Homo sapiens: one gene and its partners. The protein of the gene in region 2 purifies or fractionates together with the protein of the main gene of each other region. This does not show direct contact. Each region holds a gene or a part of one and is shown on either strand. Other genes may lie near its edges.

Evidence for each region.
Region 1: the proteins of FERMT2 (region 2) and TXNRD2 fractionate together in Homo sapiens (co-fractionation; one large-scale study listed by BioGRID). This does not show direct contact.
Region 3: the proteins of FERMT2 (region 2) and USP46 purify together in Homo sapiens (co-immunoprecipitation; one large-scale study listed by IntAct). This does not show direct contact.
Region 4: the proteins of FERMT2 (region 2) and DFFA fractionate together in Homo sapiens (co-fractionation; one large-scale study listed by BioGRID). This does not show direct contact.

Annotation. Positions count from the first base shown.
Region 1 is NC_000022.11:19,892,637-19,897,231, forward strand, and holds the end of TXNRD2 (thioredoxin reductase 2, mitochondrial isoform 5 precursor), read right to left. Parts: intron 2,946-4,595; coding exon 2,771-2,945; intron 2,565-2,770; coding exon 2,497-2,564; 3' UTR 1,272-2,496; downstream 1-1,271. UniProt on the Homo sapiens protein: Involved in the control of reactive oxygen species levels and the regulation of mitochondrial redox homeostasis. Maintains thioredoxin in a reduced state. May play a role in redox-regulated cell signaling.
Region 2 is NC_000014.9:52,877,368-52,882,485, forward strand, and holds part of FERMT2 (fermitin family homolog 2), read right to left. Parts: intron 4,462-5,118; coding exon of another isoform or gene 4,429-4,461; intron 4,103-4,428; coding exon 3,877-4,102; intron 3,772-3,876; coding exon 3,669-3,771; intron 1,323-3,668; coding exon 1,215-1,322; intron 1-1,214. UniProt on the Homo sapiens protein: Scaffolding protein that enhances integrin activation mediated by TLN1 and/or TLN2, but activates integrins only weakly by itself. Binds to membranes enriched in phosphoinositides.
Region 3 is NC_000004.12:52,620,531-52,625,214, forward strand, and holds part of USP46 (ubiquitin carboxyl-terminal hydrolase 46), read right to left. Parts: intron 1-4,684. UniProt on the Homo sapiens protein: Deubiquitinating enzyme that plays a role in behavior, possibly by regulating GABA action. May act by mediating the deubiquitination of GAD1/GAD67.
Region 4 is NC_000001.11:10,461,759-10,466,442, forward strand, and holds part of DFFA (DNA fragmentation factor subunit alpha), read right to left. Parts: intron 1,863-4,684; coding exon 1,673-1,862; intron 1,452-1,672; coding exon 1,300-1,451; coding exon of another isoform or gene 1,276-1,299; exon of another isoform or gene 1-1,275. UniProt on the Homo sapiens protein: Inhibitor of the caspase-activated DNase (DFF40).

The DNA of each region.
Region 1 (4,595 bases), on a different chromosome or scaffold from region 2:
ATGGGCTTGGTCGAGGGCTGCCCCTCGGTTCAATGGCAACAGCTCCCTTATGCTGTGGGTGAACGGAGGTGTCAGCAGACAGAGGAGGAGGGCTAGGGCGCGGTGGGAGGGAGAAACTCGCCACCTCCCCTTTAGAGTGGAGTTTATTTGGGAATGACAGTAGGAGGATAAATTTTGAAAGAAAAATAAAGTGGAGTTTAGGATGAGAACCATCAGTACACTCCAGAGTCCAAAATGTTACCTAATCCTTCGTAGTGTTTATCATAATAAACTTACTTAAAATCTACTTTTACAACGTGGCTGAGAACATTGCTCTTGCTGACTGATCACCTCCGGGCCAAGAGCCCTGCGTGCGCTCAGGCATCTCAGGTCCTCCCCGGTCATCACCTCTGCGCTTGTGTCCACTGCACAAAAGTGAAGCCTCAGCCGCTCCAGGCTGGTTTCCTTTCTGATTTCCCATTCCGAGTGACTGCTTCAGAAGTGCATCACCCTATGACACAGCTTGTGCCTCTGGGAGCCCTCCCCCAGGAGACACTGACCCCTGGCCAGCCCCACGCAAGCCCGGTTAGCTGATGGAGGTGGAGGCAGGTGATCTGAGAGGGACCCTGGCTCTGATCTTGGGCTCTCGCAGGGGACAACGGACCAGGCTCAGCACAGAAAGGCCTCGGAGAACTAACAACACTGACTAGGTTGCTCCCGCCTTCAACATGCAAGTTGACAGGGTGATTGGGAAAACTAGGAGCCTAAACTAGACGGCCAGGCACCGAGGTGGGTAGGACATCTGAGCAGGCATGCTGTGTGTGCCGCCACCCACCCTGACGAGGACCCGCAGCCCTCCTTGCGGCGGCCCATCTGCAATGGCCTCCTCTGCAGCAGGCCTGGGACAGAGCAGTGTCTGGGCGATCCCTGTTGGCTCCAGCTGCCCCTTGCCAGTCCCGTCAGACAGCCCCGGCCCAGGCCTGGGCACAGGTATCCCCTGGCTGTGTCCACACTCCCCACACCTGCTCGGCCACTGCCCCATGCAAAACCGGACCTACACCTGACAGAGAGCAAGAAGGTGAGACCAGACTGTGCCCAGCAAGTTGTAGCCAGCCCACGCCTGGCCGGGAAACGCCCAGGCCTCTGCCCAGCACTGGAAGGGTGATGTCTTTGGAAGCCTTCGAAATGTGACTTCTGGAAAGGCCTGCAAAATGCCACTCCTGGCATGTGATGACCTGCCAGGCCCAAAGGGACCCACTGGGAAACACTGAAAGCCACGAGAAGGCTGGACAGAACTTTAAAAACTCTGTGTCATTTTTATGTGCTGAAAACAGGCGGCTTGTGCACACCCATGTTCACAGCAGCATGATCCACAACAGCCAAAAGACGGAAGCAACCTAAGTGTCCACTGACAGATAATGGACACACATACAACTCAGCCTTCAACAGGAAGGAAATGCTGGCACATGCTACACAAATGCTAACTCTAACAAATGCTGCAACATGGATGCACCCTGAAAACATTGTGCTAAGAGAAATGAGCCAGTCACAAAAGGACAAACACTGCATGATTCTACTTACATGAAGTCCCTCGAGGAGTCAGATCCATAGAGACACACAGTGAAGGGTGAGTGCCCGGGCAGCAGGGAGTGAGTGTTTAATGGGGACAGAGCTCAGTTTGGAGATAATGGAAAAGTTCTAGAGATGGATGGTCATGCTGCTTGTACAATATGAACGTACTTAACACCACTGAACTATATACTTTAAAATGCTTAAGATGATGAATTTGATGTTATGTGTATGTCACCATAATTTTTAAAACTTTCAAATCCATATCATTTTTATGTTAAAAACAACAAACTAGCTTGGCTGGGCACAGTAGCTCAAACCTGTAATCCCAGCACTTAGAAGGCTGAGATGGGAAGATTGATTGAGCCTGGGAGGTGGAGGCTGCAGTGAGCTATGATCACACCACCACACTCCTCCTAGGCAACAGAGAGAGACCCTGTTTCACACGCAAAAAAAGAAAAAAACCTAGCTGGAAAGCCTGAAGCAGCAAAACATTTAATATGCTAAAGAAAAAATACATACTGGCCAGGTGCGGTGGCTCACACCTGTAATCTCAGTACTTTGGGAGGCCAAGGCAGGTGGATCACAAGGTCAGGAGATTGAGACCATCCTGGCCTACATGGTGAAACCCCGTCTCTACTAAAAATACAAAAATTAGTCAGGTGTAGTGGTGGGCGCCTGTAGCCCCAGCTACCCAGGAGGCTGAGGCAGGAGAATCGCTTGAACCCGGGAGGCGGAGGTTGCCACTGCACTCCAGCCTGGGCGACAGAGCGAGACTCCATCTCAAAAAAAAAAAAAAAAAGAAAAGAAACATACCAAGACTTAAACCTGGAAGGTGACAAGTAGGATTTATGTGCTGAAACCTTAATAAGCAATTGCTCAAGGGCCAGGGAAGGCGAGGATGATTGCCTAGTTGATCCTCGATGAGGACACCTGGCTGATGCCGTCTCAGTCTCTTCTCTGGTTTTTTCCAGCATGTCCCACGGTGGTGGGGAGACACGCAGAGATGCAAGGTGCTGGGGATGGCAAGATGGGCACAGCCTAGTGTGAGTGCCGCCCCACAGGCCTTCACGGTTGCTCTCGAGGTGCACTGGGGAGCGGCCAACCCGCCTGGCAGCCAGCAGGATGGGGGAGCCCTGGGAGGTGACAGGAAGTGGGGCAAAGATTCTCCATGCACCTCGGGGAGACCAGAGACAGAGCGTGTGGCTCGACGTGCCCTTACCTATGGCCCACAGGACGGTGTCAAAGGTGCCCGTGTCCTCCTTGCCGGTGGTGCTGTCCTCCCAGGTGACCTGCAGCTGGCCATCAGGGAGCCTCCTGACCCGCGAGGGGGCACAGCCCCTCAGGAACCGGGTGCCATGAGATGCCATGTGCTCTATGACCATGGAGGACATTTGCTGCAAAGCACAAGAAGACAGGCCATGAAGACCAGGTGGCCGTGGGAGAGAGGCTCTGGCCCTGCCCTGCTCTCGAAGGCCTCAATGAAGGGCGGAGAGGGGTCTGTGCGGAAGACGGGGTGAGACACCCTGCCCCCTGCTCTACGTCCTCTTGCTCTCTGTGGAGTGTCTAGCCCCTGTCCTGGCTCCAAGTCCTCAACCCTGGGCCCTATGGTCAGGATTCACTCAGCCTGTGGGCTCCTCTCTAGATGCTAATTAACTAAGTCTTCATCAGCCAGATACGGTCACACCTGTAATCCCAACCTTTTGGGAGGCTGAAGTGGGAGAATCCCTCAAGCCCAGGAGTTTGAGGCTGCAATGAACTGTGATCACACCACTGCACTCCAGCCTGGGCGACAGAGTGAGACTCTATCTCTAAAAGAAAAAATAAGCAAGGCCGGGTGCGATGGCTCACACCTGTGATCCCAGCACTTTGAGAAGCTGAGGCGGGCGGATCACGAGGTCAGGAGATAGAGATCATCCTGGCTAACACGGTGAAACACTGTCTCTACTAAAAAACACAAAAAATTAGCCAGGCGTGGTGGCAGGTACCTGTAGTTCCAGCTAACTGGGAGGCTGAGGCAGGAGAATGGCGTGAACCCGGGAGGTGGAGCTTGCAGTGAGCCGAGATTGTGCCACTGCACTCCAGCCTGGGTGACAGAGTGAGACTCTGTCTCAAACCAAAAAAAAAGAAAGAAAAAAAAGAAAAACAACCAAATCCTGGTACATCTACACATTTCTTTAAAAAACAAAAACAAAAAACTTAGTCTTCACTAAAACCAATGGCAGAGAAGCGTGCCTTCCCCCAGGAGCTGTGCCCTGGTCCAACAAGATGGCCCCTGCTCCTGGCCCACCCCTCCACATGTGGCCAACATGCCCCTCTGCCATCCAGGAGCCAGGAGGGTAGGTAGGAGACTCTGCTCCCGCCTAGAAATGTAGGCACAGCAGGCTCAGGTCCAGATCAGGGACAGAGAGAGTCCTGCTTCTCCCTCCCGGCCCAGGAGGCCTGTGCGCCCCAAGTCCAGCTACAGATGGGGGCCCTGTTCCCAGGACAATGGGGACTTGCACGGACCAGCAGTGAAGCTGGCCACAGCTTCTGGTTTCAAGAGGAGAAAAACAGTCACTGCTAACATCCTCTGACACCTGTGCGGGTGTGCCAGCTGGCTCTAGATGGCGTGTGTGGGAGTCTGGCCCGCCGGGCAGGGCTGGCTGTGCTGCAGAGGGGCTGCCGCACAGGCTGTTCATCACTCCTGCACCCCTCCAGAGGCCTGGAGGGCATGGCCATCCCAGGCTCTGAGGGAGAACCATGGAGCCTGTCCAGGACACAGGGTCCCTCGCCCCTCAGCCTGGCTGCCTAGACTGTGCATCCTCCTTGCCTGGGCACGGCCCCCATTCTGCAGGCCCCTTTCCTCCTCCGTCCACTGCCAGCTCACCCTCCCCACATCTGAAGGCTCTGAGGCCTTCCTAGACACTGCGTCCCTACCACAGGGCTCGGTGGGTTTGCACTGAGGGACATGATGGGAGTGTGCCATAGCTTTAGGATGGAACAACACATGGCCACACGGGTGGAGGGACACGTCTCTGAGTCAGCCTGGGGGTGGCACTGGGAGT
Region 2 (5,118 bases):
AAACTGCTCCAGAATTTAATTCAAGAAATTCACCAGAGAGTCAGAATTATCTGGAAACACAATACGGGATCCTAACTGGCTCATTAATCAAGTTCCTAGAAAATAACTGATTAATCCATCTGTCACCTGGGATTTATTTTCCTTGTCTATGCTTCTTTGCCACTCCTTTCATTATGTAAAACTAAGGTGAAAATTAGCTGTTCTTGCTTTTTTTTTTTTTTTTTTTTTTTTGCTAACCTCACTCCCCATTCTTGCTTTCTAATGTCAACTTTTTGGGTCACAACTGAAAACTTTTCTGGATGCATAAAGGAGGCATTTGGAAGACTGAGAGCATTTTTGTTTGTGTTCTAAGGAAAAACAAAATCCCTTCTACAGTGAAAAGTTCTTCAACTGAATGTCAACTCTGCTTCCTGTACTTCTGTTATTTATAGAACACCAACTTCATCAGGACTTTAGGCTGAACCTAGAATCCCGTCATAACTGGGAATACTTGCCAAAGCATTACTCGGGTATCTGAAATTTAAGAAAGATGAATTAATTTGGTCATCAGACCTCAGTATCTGTAAGAATGTGGATGTGTGGATGCCACCTTAAAGTTATTCATGAAGTGGATAATTAATTTTTAAATAAGCTCCCCTATAATTCTGAAGGAGGTGGTATGTAAGAACCACATATGAAAAAACTGGTTTAATCTAAGGACAATGTTAGCTATCTACTTAAGGATTATCATTGTAGAAAAAGGTTTGGTTCCACTAGTCTCTCTAAATCTTATCACCTAAAAGCATCGCTTTGCTACAGCCCATTTTATAGTGTGTTGTATCATCCCTGGCTATTTATGAAATTATACAGGTAAGCTTCAGATTAGATTTCAGAAATCTGATTTTTAATAAATATTTTCTTTCCAAGGAAAAACTGAGGAGCTTTGAGCAGATTTATATTTGGGGGTGAGAGGATAATTTTTTTCCTACAAAATAGGATAATTTTTTTCCTACAAAATAGAGAAAAGTACTTAAGTATACCACTGAACTCTTGGAAAAGATAAAAAATCAAACTAAAATGTATTTGTTTTGCTTTCCTAAGTGTCTACTCACTTTCTTCATGGCAAAAATTCTGTCTCGTGAAATGTTACTGGAATTACTATTCCACTTTACTGTTTAAAAATACCTCCCTACCCTTTACCGGAATAAGTCCCATTTACTAGACCTTTCAACTACCTGCAGGGCTGCAAACATCATCATTTCTTCTTCTGTGCATTCAATCTCTTCCAGGAGAATGGCCCATTTGGCCTGCTCGTAAAGCTGATTGATTCTGATTGCATCATACTGCAACAAGAGAAATAGTTCTTTTGTAATATATAACCTTTACCATTGAAAAATTTCAAACTCTGAATATTCAATTGACAAGAAAAATTTAATGCTTTTTTTCCTGGGATCTTAATTTACAAGCAAGAATTTTTATTTACAATCAAGTATTATTAGAAGGATACCTATGGGGTCAGACATGCCTATATATGCCCACATCTAATTTTCCATTAAAAATGACATTAAAATATGACAGAGAATAATTGATTGTACAGTATTAAAAAGTAGATTCTGTATGTTATTTTTCAGGGAAATAACCACTAGACATTATAGCCTTTAACATAAGAAATCTAATTTGATGACATTAAAGTAAGGCGGAACTACCGATTATTTTTCAGTGTTATTACTGCAACTTGCCATACAAACATGTAATCAGAAAGCAAATTATTCTGGGGAACATTTTGTTCACTGTGGAGAAGCATACCCAGATAAAGTGGCAAGTCCTTGGAAACGGCAGTTATTTTAAGTATGCAAAATACAGGGCAAATATACTTGTGGAAAATGTTTACTTATATGTTATTCAATTATCCATTTAATTATATAAATAAAAGTCAATAGTAATGCCTTAAGAATACTGCAGATTGAGTATCCCTTATCCAGAATGCTTGAGACCTTCTGTGTTGAATTTAGAATTTTTATAGATGATGGAATATTCCATTATACCAGTTGAGTGTCCCTAACATAAAAATCCAAAATGAGCATATCCTTTCAGCATCATGTCAGCCCTCAAAAGTCTTAGCTTTTGGAGCATTCTACATTTTCAAATTAGGAATGCTCAACATGTATTTTAGAACGTTGACAAAATACATCTCCATTCCCCTCACAAATGTAACTATTCCCAAAGTAGCTTTGGCTTTACTAAAAGTAGGTATGATGTGGCCTGAAAATGAATTAAAATTATTTTCTATAATTTTATTATAGAGATTTTACTGTTGTATAAAGAATTACTTAAGCATATAATAAAAGAATGTAAACATAACATTAAAATCTAGACTATACTCTAAACATGAAAAGGATGAGAGGGTAGCCAAGAGAGGTTTCTTTCCCCAGGCTGAAAGAGAAGTAAAAGATTCAAACCTCTGTGCCAAGTGTTTTCTACGGGGGAAAAAAGCTCCAGATATTTATGGTAAAGTTAAATCTTACCAGAAAAGTGAAGTACTATGGTAGCAGAGATAATACCAATCATAGTAAAGACAAGTAACAGTGTTTGTCTGTTACAGAGGAAAAAAATGTAGACCTAAGAAAAATTTGGCTGAGCATGGTGGCTCAGGCCGGTAATCCCAGCACTTTGGGAGGCTGAGGCAGGAGGATGGCTTCAGCCCAGGAGTTTTGAGACCAGCTTGGGTGAAATAGTGAGACTCTGTCTCTACAGAAAATAAGAAAGCCAGGTGTGGCTGGGTGAGCCTGTAGTCCCAGCTACTTGGGAGGCGACGTGGGAGAATGGCTTGAGTCCAGGACTTTGAGGTTACAGTGAGCCATGATCATACCACTGCATTCCAGCCTGGAGGACAGAGTGAGACCCTGTCTCAAGAAAAAAACGTTTTTTTGAAGCAACATCTTTTGGCACGTAATTAGTAATCTAAAAGTAATTGAAAAGGTAACCTTTTTGAAACTTTTATTTAAATATAGTTGAAGAGAGGTCTTATATTTTAAAAATGAACTTTGCCAATTCTTTTTTTTGTTTGTTTGAGATGGAGTCTTGCCCTGTTGCCCAGGCCGGAATGCAGTGGCATGATCTCGGCTCACTGCAAGCTCCGTCTTCCAGGTTCAAGTGATTCTCCTGCCTCAGCCTTCCAAGTAGCTGGCATTACCAGCGTGTGCCACCATGCGTGGCTAGTTTTTGTATTTTTAGTAGAGACGGGGTTTCACCATGTTGGCCAGGCTGGTCTTGAATTCCTGACCATGTGATCCGCCCACCTTGGGTTCTCAAAGTGCTGAGATTACAGGCGTTGAGCCACTGCACCCGGCCTAAACTTTGCCAGTTCTATAGTACCAAAAGAGTACCTTTAAAATACAAATCATGACACTCTAAGAGCTTAGAGATTAAAAAAAAGATAAAACCAAATCAGCCAAAAGTTTCATTATCTTAATAACAACAATAAAAAGGTTTAGTTATGCTTCCAACCTACTAAAATAGACTTATTTAAAATACAAATACCTTTGCCTAAAAGTTTGGGTTTTTAATAATTATTCAAGATTTCCTATATACAAATAATTCCTTATTCCACCGACTTCCAAAAACAAACATCCATGTGAACAAAACAAATTAATGGGGAAAAAAAAAAGATCCCTTTAAACCCTCGGTACCTTTGGATTCAAATCAAAAAAGCTGTAATACTTGAATCGGAGCAGCAAGGCCTCATTTTCCTTCACATCTTGTTCCATGAGAGATCTTGAGGAATCAAGCCATCTGGACAAATTAAGAACAGTGGAACAAAACAACACAGAATGAAGACAATATTTCTACCTCTAGCTGGATGAAGAAATTCAATTTTATCTATATCTTAAAACTTACCCTTGGTTGATTTTTGCTTTATCAAGAAGAGCTTGAGGCTTGAACATTTTTGCCAAGATTTCTGGTGACGTGATTGGTTGACTGACAGCAAGTATACCAGGATTGCCTTCTGACAAAGCACTGTCACCAAACCAAGCAGAAGTTGGTGACAAGGGGCTTCCATCATGAGCATCATAAGTGGGGGTCATTGTTTTACTATACAGTCCTGGGCTTGAATATATACTTCCTAATAAGTAACATGAAAAACAGGTAGTAAGTATGCAGTACAGCATCTTATTTTTCAATAATAACACATATTATGATATAAAGCACATTGTGAAACAAAAGTTTTATTCTGAAAGGAAAGCTTAGTATATTATTTTACCTGTTATGAAAACATGTGTAATTAATTCTCCTTGTATAACATTAAAACACGTAATAAAGCCTTAAGAATATAATTAAGTTGGCAGAAATTCTGGGGAAAAAAAATCAGTTCAAGAGAATTAGAAAATAAGGATATAGCTGAAGCAGACAGACCAACACTTTTTGTCTTTAAATTGTGGCAAGGCTCACCTTTCAGAGGGCCAATGTAAAGAACATCAGTGCCTATAGGAAAGGAAAGAAAGGAATTCAGAAGGTAAAGGAAAGGCCACAACAGAGGACAGAAACAAAAGAATGAAAAGAAAATGAGAAAAAGAAAAAACAGATTTTCCCTAATTGTGAATCATAAACTGAAGTACACATTTCAAGTGGATTTCAGAGTAAAGAACCTTAGAAGCTACAACCTAAGTAAAACGGTTTTTTTTGTTCAATTTAAAAGAATGAAGTTGTGCTGTAGTCAAGTATATAGTGACAAATATGTCTACAACTTTTACCACCATTTGAAATCCATACAATTTGAAGGTAACACAATAGAACTGAATTCATATAGATTAAGAATAATTTTATAGTAAAGTCTTCTCAGTGAATAAACAGGTTTCAACAATTTTACAAATAAAGTTTTTTTTAATTTTTAAGTTCTGGGGTACAACAAATAAAGTATTAATGTAAAAGGGGAGATAAAAGTCTGCCCTAGAAAGAGTCTAAACAGAGATATATTTAATAGTCAAATCTCAAAAGGAAGGGATATTGCCTTATTTATCTTCTGATTTCTTAGTATTAGGGCTAGACATATAGTAGAGGTTACGTAAATAACAATTTGTTACATTAGTCAACAGATGGTATGTGCTCCTTTATTTAAACTACAAAAATTAAGGAGATGAA
Region 3 (4,684 bases), on a different chromosome or scaffold from region 2:
TTTACATAGCAAATGTGGGAAAAAAACCCCACATATTTACTGAATAAAAGAATACTGTACAAAGCCACTAGATTAGCAAAAGTGAAGACATGAGAATAGCAGGGACAGATGATGTAGAGAAATGAAAGCACTCGCTCATATACTCAGTGTGTAAAGTGGTATAACCATTTTGGGAATTTGACACTTTCTAATGATGTTAATGAAAAGCATACCATATGACCTAACAGATTTACCTGATGTGCACATCCTAGAGAAAATGGGTTCAGGTGCACTAGAGTAAATGTATTAAAATGCTCATAGCTGCATTGTTCATATTGCCCCAAACTGGCAATAGCCAAATATCCAACAACAGTAAAATGAATTAGTAAACTGTGGCACATTCATGCAACAGAATACCATACAGCAATAAAAACGAATAAACTAAAGCATCATGCAACAACACAAATGAATCTCACAAGGGATACTGAGCAAAAGGCAAAACACAAAGGATACATATTTATATGTATCAAAATATCAAAAACAAGCCAAACTGAACTATATATTTCAGATATGCAAAAATAGGTCACCAGTTCTATCAAACATTCAAAGAACAGATAGATAAAAACTTATAGAAGCTCTTCCAAAGAAAAGAGAGAACTAATTTTACAGAATGTTGATAGCAAAACCAGACAAGTACAGTAGAGAGAGGAAAAGTTCAAGCCAATCTCAGCAATAAATATAGTGGCAAAAAAATCCTAAAAATCGTAGATCTCACAATCCAACAATGTATATAAAAGATAAAGCCCCAATTCAGTTTATTACAAAAATACAAAGTGGGGTCAACATTAGAAACTCTATTAATGTTACTGCACACTGTGGCTCACGTATGTAATCCCAGCACTTTGTGAGGCTGAGGTGGGCAGATCACCTGAGGTCAGGTGTTCAAGACCAGCCTGACCAACTTGGTAAAACCTCATCTCTACTAAAAATACAAAAATTAGCCGGGCGTGGTGGTGCACACCTGTAATCCAGGCTACTCCAGAGGCTGAGACAGGAGAATTGCTTGAACCTGGGACGCAGAGGTTGCAGTGAGCCAAGATCGTGTTACTACACTCCAGCCTGGGTAACAGAGCAAGAGTCTGTCTCACACACATAAAAAAAAAAAAACCTCTACTAATGTAACTAACTTACCACCACTTTAGAAACAATTTGGCACTACCTAGGAAATCTGAAGATGCACATGCCCTATGGCCAGCAATTCTGCTCCCAAAAGGATACCCCAGAGAGAATTTTGCCCATGGGGACCAGGAGATAGTTTGTAGCAGCACTGTCTACAAGCCAAAAACTAGACACACCATAGAAGAACAGAAAAACAAACTGCAGTATATTCCTACAATGGTATACTACAAAATGATAACAATGAATGAACCATGCTACAAGAAATGGCCAATTCTCAAAAATATTAATATAACCTTTAATGATAATAGCAAGTTTAGAAGAATACATGTATGTGATTTCATCTATATAAAAGCCATAAACATGCAGAACTAAGTAAATGTCTAGAAATACACATGCGTATGTATGTACAACTACAAAGAAAAGATAGTATTGACACACAAAATGGAAGACAGTGATCACCTCCTGGGCAAAGGATGAGACTGAGAGGAAAATTAAATTGCAAAGAAGTACACAGTGGGTTTCAAAGTTATTGTTAATGTTCCATTTTTTTATAGGTGTTGGGCATATGGATTTTTTAAACTATTCTTTAAAATGTATATGTGGCCTATATATAAACATACGTTATACACACACACATATACTTCTTTAAAAAAATGATATATTTCCTAATTTAAAAAATAATTTCAAGACTTACCAGTCTAGACCAGGCTTTACTATAAATCATTCCTCAATTCTACCTCATGAAATAAATCAAAATCTTTTCCCATAGCATATAGTTTTCTTCTTCAAGAAACATGACAAACATTTTCATTTATTTATTCACTCAACTATTTATTAATTATTATATGTCAAATACTCCTTGGGCACCAGAGAGAGAAGCAAGACCGACACTATCCCTGTCCTCATCAATCTTACAGTTTAGTAAGAAAGATAGATGCTGCATACGAAATACATATAGATAAATATATAAATACAACAAAGTGCTATCACAGAAAATTAGACTATTGTAAGATGATACAAGGTGACTTCATTAAGTTGGAAGTTCAGAGAAGGCCTCTCTCGGGTTTTAACACAAGTTGAAACCTGAAGAGGATTTAGTCAAGCAACAGGGGCAGGTGGTGTGCATTCCAGACAGAAAGTGGCATGTGCAAAGGACCTGAAGCAGGAAGGGATTTGAAAGGCTTGAGAAGCTACACTGAAGCTAGAGTAAGAAACAGAATGGCAAAGATGACCCTGCAGAGACAGACAGAGCCAGCTTACATAAGAATTTGTAGGCAGTGGTATTTTCAGTGAGACTGCAGGCCACTACTGTACTTTAGGTAGGAGAGTAACATGGAGGAAGGCCAGAGGAAAAAACAGAGAATCCAGTAGGAGTTACTACAGTAGTTTAGTTGAGACTGCCAGCCAAGAGTTGATGGGTGCCTGAGCCAGGATGGGAGTAGCAGGGAGGAAGAAAAGTATCTTAAGGGAGATAGAGCAGACAGGGAGTGGCAACAGAATAGATTTAAGAGGTGAGGTAAGGATGGTGAGAAGGAGTACACCCTTATTAAATGAAAAAGACTGAAAATCTGTCAATTGTCATATTTACAATATAGCCCTAATTTTGATGTTTAAACGTATACAAAGTTATTCTGAAAATAAACTGAATATCAAAAGGAATAAAAAACTATAATGGATTAAAACACATGAAATATGTTAAAATTCATGAGTTCATCACAAAATGGTAACACAAAAGACAGAGGGCGATAAAGTATATTAAAGGCTCTAACTGTTGGAAAAGTGGAAACAAAATGAAATAAGTCAAGGATGCATGTTGTAATCTCTAGAGCAACCTCTAAATGAATTTGGAAATGTAATACATTAGATGCCAAAAAAATGAAAAATATTTCATTGATCCAAAAGAAGAGAGAAAAATGAATATAAAATAGATTAATTAAATAAAAACAAAAAGTAGGGGCCAGGTGCAGTGGCTCACGCCTGTAATCCCAGCACTTTGGGAGCCCAAAGCAGGCAGATTACTTGAGGTCAGGAGTTCGAAACCAGCCTGGCCAACATGGTGAAATCCCATCTCTACTAAAAATACAAGAGTTAGCCAGGCGTGGTGGTGGGCGCCTGTAATCCCAGCTCCTGCTTAGGCAGGAGAATCACTTGAACCCGGGAGGCAGAGGTTGGAGCGAGCTGAGATCAAGCCACTGTACTCCAGCCTAGGCAGCAGAGCGAGATTCTGTTTCAAAAAAAATTAAAAAAATAAAATAAAAATAAAAACAAAGAGTAGGGTGGTAGAAACATACTGCCATTTTACCATACATGTTAAAGTACACCACAAGAATGTTTCCAGAATGTGGGAAATGCTATAGGACAAACACCCTGATTTCTTTAAAAAATAAATTGCAAGGTAAAAAGGGTGTGTTGGGGTTGGGGGGTTGGCGGGGAGGATTAGGATTGGCCAAAGTGTTAACAATCACTGATCCTGAATAATACACACATGGGAAATACCATACTACTGCCTCTACTTTTGTATTCATTTGAATTTTACTGGAATGTAAAGTAGAAAGGAACAGAGGGAAAATGGGAGGGAGAGAAGAAGAGAAAGCAATACAGAGACAGTGGCAGGGAGGGAAGATCTCTGGATACTTATTGGCATATTTATGTGCAGAAAGTGTTTTGACAGGATATATTTTTAAATGTTCAAGTGGTTATCTCTGGGCTAATGTGATCACAAATTTTAGAACGTTACAAATTCACCATCTCTGGGTGGGAAGATTACCGGTAACTTTTAGTCTCTTTTTGTTTAGCTGTGTTTTCTCATTGCTTCTACAATGGGTAAAACAGAATGCTTGACTCAAAAATTGTTTAAAAGCATGGAAGAAAGACTGCCAAAACCTAAAAACTTCTCCCTTTACATAGATGTTGATGTGTAAGTCTACATTTCTTAAACATTTCTGGGTCACAGCTCGCAATGGACTGAATGTCTGTGTCCTCCCAAAATTCATACTTTGAAACCCTCATCTCTAATAGGATGGTATTTGGAGATGGGCCTCTGGGAGGCAAACAGGTCATGAGGGTGGAGCCCTCATGATAAGATTTGTACCCTTATAAAAGGAGACCCGAGAGAGCTTGCTTTCTCTATCTCCACCAAGTGAGGACACAGCCAGAAGACAGCTGTCTGCAAGGCAGAAAGAAGGTCCTCACCAAGAACCTGACCCTGCTAGCACCTTCATCTGGGACTTTCAGCCTCCAGAACTGTGAGAAATGAATTTCTGTTGTTTAAGCAACTCATGAGGGATTGCGTTGTAGCAGACCAGACTAAGACACAGGCTCTTTGCAAAATCTGACAAAAGCTACTACCTCTCTTTCCAGAAAAATGCACAATCTTATAGAATTTTCCATACAATGTCAGGAAACTCTGAGATCCTTAATGAACCCATAGACTTTCTATGCTGTCAGTAGTAGTTATAATAAAAAATAATACCTGACATTTATTGCCTACTTGCCATGTGCCAAGCATGGCTCTAGGTGTCAACTC
Region 4 (4,684 bases), on a different chromosome or scaffold from region 2:
CTCTCCTGACTCTCTTTTGGGGAGTGCAATGAGGCAGTATCCGTTTATGTTACCTCTTTACACTGAAATGCCGGGTTTCCTTTACCATTAATTGCCACGGGCTTTTTGTTTTTTGAGACGGAGTCTCGCTCTGTCACCCAGGCTGGAGTGCAGTGACACTATCTCGGCTCCCTGCAAGCTCCGCCTCCCGGATTCACGCCATTCTCCTGCCTCAGCCCCCTGAGTAGCTGGGACTACAGGTGCCCACGACCACGCCTGGCTAATTTTTTTGTATTTTTTTTAGTAGAGACGGGGTTTCACCGTGTTCGCCAGGATGGTCTCGATCTCCTGACCTTGTGATCCGCCCACCTTGGCCTCCCAAAGTGCTGGGATTACAGGCGTGAGCCACCGCGCCCAGCCTGCCATGGGCTTTTTTAAGACGGAGTTTCACTCTTGTCGCCCAGGCTGGAGTGCAGTGGCGCGATCTTAGCTCACGCAACCTCCACCTCCTGGGTTCAAGTGATTCTCTTGCTTCAGCCTCCCACCACCATGCCAGGCTAATTTTTGTATTTTTAGTAGAGATGGGGTTTCGCCATGTTGGTCAGGCTGGTCTCGAACTCCTGACCTCAGGTGATCCACCTGCCTCGGCCTCCCAAAGTACTGGCATTAACAGGCGTAAGCCACTGTGCCCGGACAAGCATGGGCCTTTTCTTACAACACCAACAGGAAGAAGTCCTTGGAAAGTTTACTTGGAGCAACTCTAAGGTCCTCCACCTTCAGGAAATTTAGCCAAGCTCAAGTCAACAGTTTCCTTCCCTTCTATCTACAATAGGGAGGTACTTATGACAGGGACAAGGACAATGAATCAGAAGTAGCACCCACCCAGGCAGGTTCCCTTCCTCAAGTTTTTAGCTCCCTGGTCTTAGCCAGCAGGCGACGATCCCCTCAAGTTTGCCTTTTCCTGTGACATTGACAGACCTCAGGACGGACTATAGATCTTCTCTGACCATGGAAAGACCCAGAAGCCATCTCAGAAGATTGGGCCCTGCTATTCCTCCCTGTCAGGAACAGTCATTTCATTACCAACCTTGGACCAGAGTCTGTTTGATGATCTGAGGAAGTGTATGCATTTTTCTTTAAAGCTATTTTGATTTAGATTAATGAGATTTTTGCAAATGCCTTGGCATATAATAGGCAAACTGGCAGCTAGGATTCACAGTCTGCAGAGGTGAACAAAAGGGCCCACACACCTCTGCATGATACTACTACATCCCAGGGCATGTCCTCCTCTGTAGCTCAGTGACCCTGGTTTCCGCCCACCTCCAAATCCTGACTAGATAAGCTCAGCTCTGGAGCCTGCTTCTCCCTCAGTGCAGTAAGGATGTGGCTCGCCAGCGCAACGTCCGAGGAGGTCTCTCTGCTGATACCCGTGTCTACTGCATCCACCTCCTCACCAAAGGCAGCTTTGGACTCTGCAAAGGAGACACGAGACAGAGATCAGACGTGGTGTGACCACACAGCCACATGAACAACTCGCCAGAATAACTGGCCGGGCAAGAGAGAAACGTGCCCGTCCCGCATCCCAGCAGCCGCGGCTTCAGTGGCCCTGGCTACATCACAAATAGTGTCCTCCCAAGGGACGCCTCCATCAGCCCTGAATTCTCAGAGTGACTCTGCCTGCAGAGAGTCCTACCTTCCTGCTTTGACAAGAGGCTGCCCTCTTTCTCCAAAGCCTGGAGGTACAGCTGCAGGAGCTGCTTGGACTGACGCACTTCCTCTCTTTGGTCAAGCACCTGTTGGAGTGTGTGCTGCAGCCGCTGGACGGTGGCACAACTCTGACGTAGTTCCTGAGCCAGGTCTGAGCAGGGAGCGTCAACAAGCATCTAACAAACAAACACAGACGCTTAGAAATCTACAGGGACTTTCTGACTTTCTTTTTTTTTTTTGAGACGGAGTCTGCTCTGTTGCCCAGGCTGGAGTGCGATGGTGTGATCTCGGCTCACTGCAACCTCCGCCTCCTGGGTTCAAGCAATTTTCCTGCCTCAGCCTCCCTAGTAGCTGGGATTACAGGCATGTGCTACCAAGCCCAGCTAATTTTTGTATTTTTAGTAGAGACGGGGTTTTGTCATGTTGGCCAGGCTGGTCTTGAACTCCTGACCTCAGGTGATCCACCCGCCTTGGCCTCCCAAAGTGCTGGGATTACAGGTGTGAGCTACTGCGCCCGGCCTACAAGGACTTTCTAAACACGGTGTTCTACCTCTCAAATACATCCATTTCAGAACTCAATGCATCCATTTCCCAAAGTTACCTACTATGATAGTTGGCAGACAGTCAAGAGAAAAGCATGTAATTTTTCTAATTTTTTTTTTTTTTGAGACAGAGTCTCGCTCTGTCACCCAGGCTGGAGTGCAGTGGCACGATCTCGGCTCACTGCAAGCTCCGCCTCCTGGGTTCACGCCATTCTCCTGCCTCAGCCTCCTGAGCAGCTGGTACTACAGGTGCCTGCCACCACGCTTGGCTAATTTTTTGTATTTTTAGTAGAGACGGGGTTTCACCGTGTTAGCCAGGATGGTCTCGATCTCCTGATCTTGTGATCCACCCGCCTCGGCCTCCCAAAGTGCTGGGATTACAGGTGTGAGCCACCGTGCCCGGCCAATTTTTCTAATTTTCTTTTAGTGTTAAAATTGGGAAGAAGGGTCGGGTGTAGTGGCTTACACCTATAATCCCAGCACTCTGGGAGGCTGAGGTAGGAGGACTGCTTGAGCTCAGGAGTTTAAGACCAGCCTGGGCAACATGGTGAAACCCTGTCTTTACCAAAAATATAAAAATTCACCAGGCATGGTGGAGTACGCCTGTGGTCCCAGCTACTTGGAAGGCTGAGGTGGGAGGATCGCTTGAGCCCAGCAGGCAGATGGTGCAGTGAGCTGAGATTGCACTACTGCACTCCAGCCTGGGTGACAGAGCTAGACCCTGTCTCAAACCAAACCAAACCAAAACAAAAAACACCAAGAAATCATTTCCTCAAAGAGGCCTTCCTCCGTGTTCCAGTCTAGAGTAGCCTCCATCACTCTCTGCATACCACTGTCTGATATGCTTTCCTGTTGCTTTCTGCCTCCCTTCATCAGAATACAAGTACCGTTAGAGCAGAGACTGTGTCTGGCTTGTTCGCCACTGCACACCCAGTGCATAGAACCATGACAGGCACAGGATGGGGCTCAATAAATATGTTTTGGGTCAAGCACAGAGGCTCATATCAATAATCCCAGCACTTTGGGAGGCCAGGGTGGGAGGACTGCCTGAGCCCAGGAGTTCAAGACCAGCCTAGGCAACCTGTGAAGACCTCCTCTCTATAAAACATTAATTAATTATTTTTTTTGAGACTGAGTCTTGCTCTGTCACCAGGTTGGAGTGCAATGACGTGATCTCGGCTCACCGCAACCTCCGCCTCCTGGGTTCAAGCTATTCTCCTGCCTCAGCATCCTGAGTAGCTGGGACTACAGGCACACGCCATCACGCCCAGCTAATTTTTGTAATTTTTTTGTTTTTTGAGACAGAGTCTTGCTCTGTCTCCCAGGCTAAAATGCAGTGGCGTGATCTCTGCTCACTGCTACCTCCCCCTCCCAGGTCAAGTGATTCTCCTGCCTCAGCCTCCTGAGTAGCTGGGATTACAGGTGCTTGCCGCCACGCCTGGCTAATTTTTATATTTTTAGTAGAGACGGGATTTCACCATCTTGGCCAAGCTGGTCTTGAACTCTTGACCTTGTGATCCACCCTCCTCAGCCTCCCAAAGTGCTGGGATTACAGGCGTTAAGCCACCGTGCCCGGCTGTATTTTTAGTAAAGACGGGGTTTCACCATGTTTGCCAGGATGGTCTTGATCTCTTGACATCGTGATCTGCCCGCCCCGGCCTCCCAAAGTTCTAGGATTATAGGTGTGAGCCACCACGCCTGGCTTTATTTATTTATTTATTTATTTTTGAGACAGGGTCTTGCTTTGTTGCCCAGGTTGGTGTGGTATAGTCATGGCTCACTGAAGCCTTGACCACCTGGGCTCAAGTGATCCTTCTGCCTCAGTTTCCTGAGTAGCTGGAACTACAGGCACACGCCACCACACCTAGCTAATTTTTGTAGAGATAGGGTTTTACCACATCAAACTCCTGAACTCAGGCAATCTGCTCACCTTGGCCTCCCAAAATGCTAGGATTACAGGTATAAGCCACTGCACCTGGCCTACAAAAATTAAAAAAAAAAAAAAAGAAAAAATAGCGCAGTGTGGTGGTGCAAGCCTACAGTCTCAGCTACCTGAGAGGTTGAGGTGGGAGGATGGCTTGAGCCCAGGAAGTCGAGGATGCAGTGAGCTATGATCATGCCACTGCACTGGGTGACAAAGCAAGACCCTGTCTCAAAGAGAAATTTTCTTTGAATGAAAACATACTGTTTTTATCCCAATCTTTTTTTTCTTTTTGAGATGGAGTCTCTCTCTGTCACCCAGGCTGGAGTGCAGTGGTGCGATCTCGGCTCACTGCAAGCTCCACCTCCTGGGTTCAGGCGATTCTTCTGCCTCAGCATCCCGAGTAGCTGGGACTACAGGTACAGGTGCACACCACCAGGCCCGGCTAATTTTTTGTATTTTTAGTAGAGATGGGGTTTTACCATGTTAGCCAGGATGGTCTCGATCTCCTGACCTCGTGATCTGCCCGCCTCGG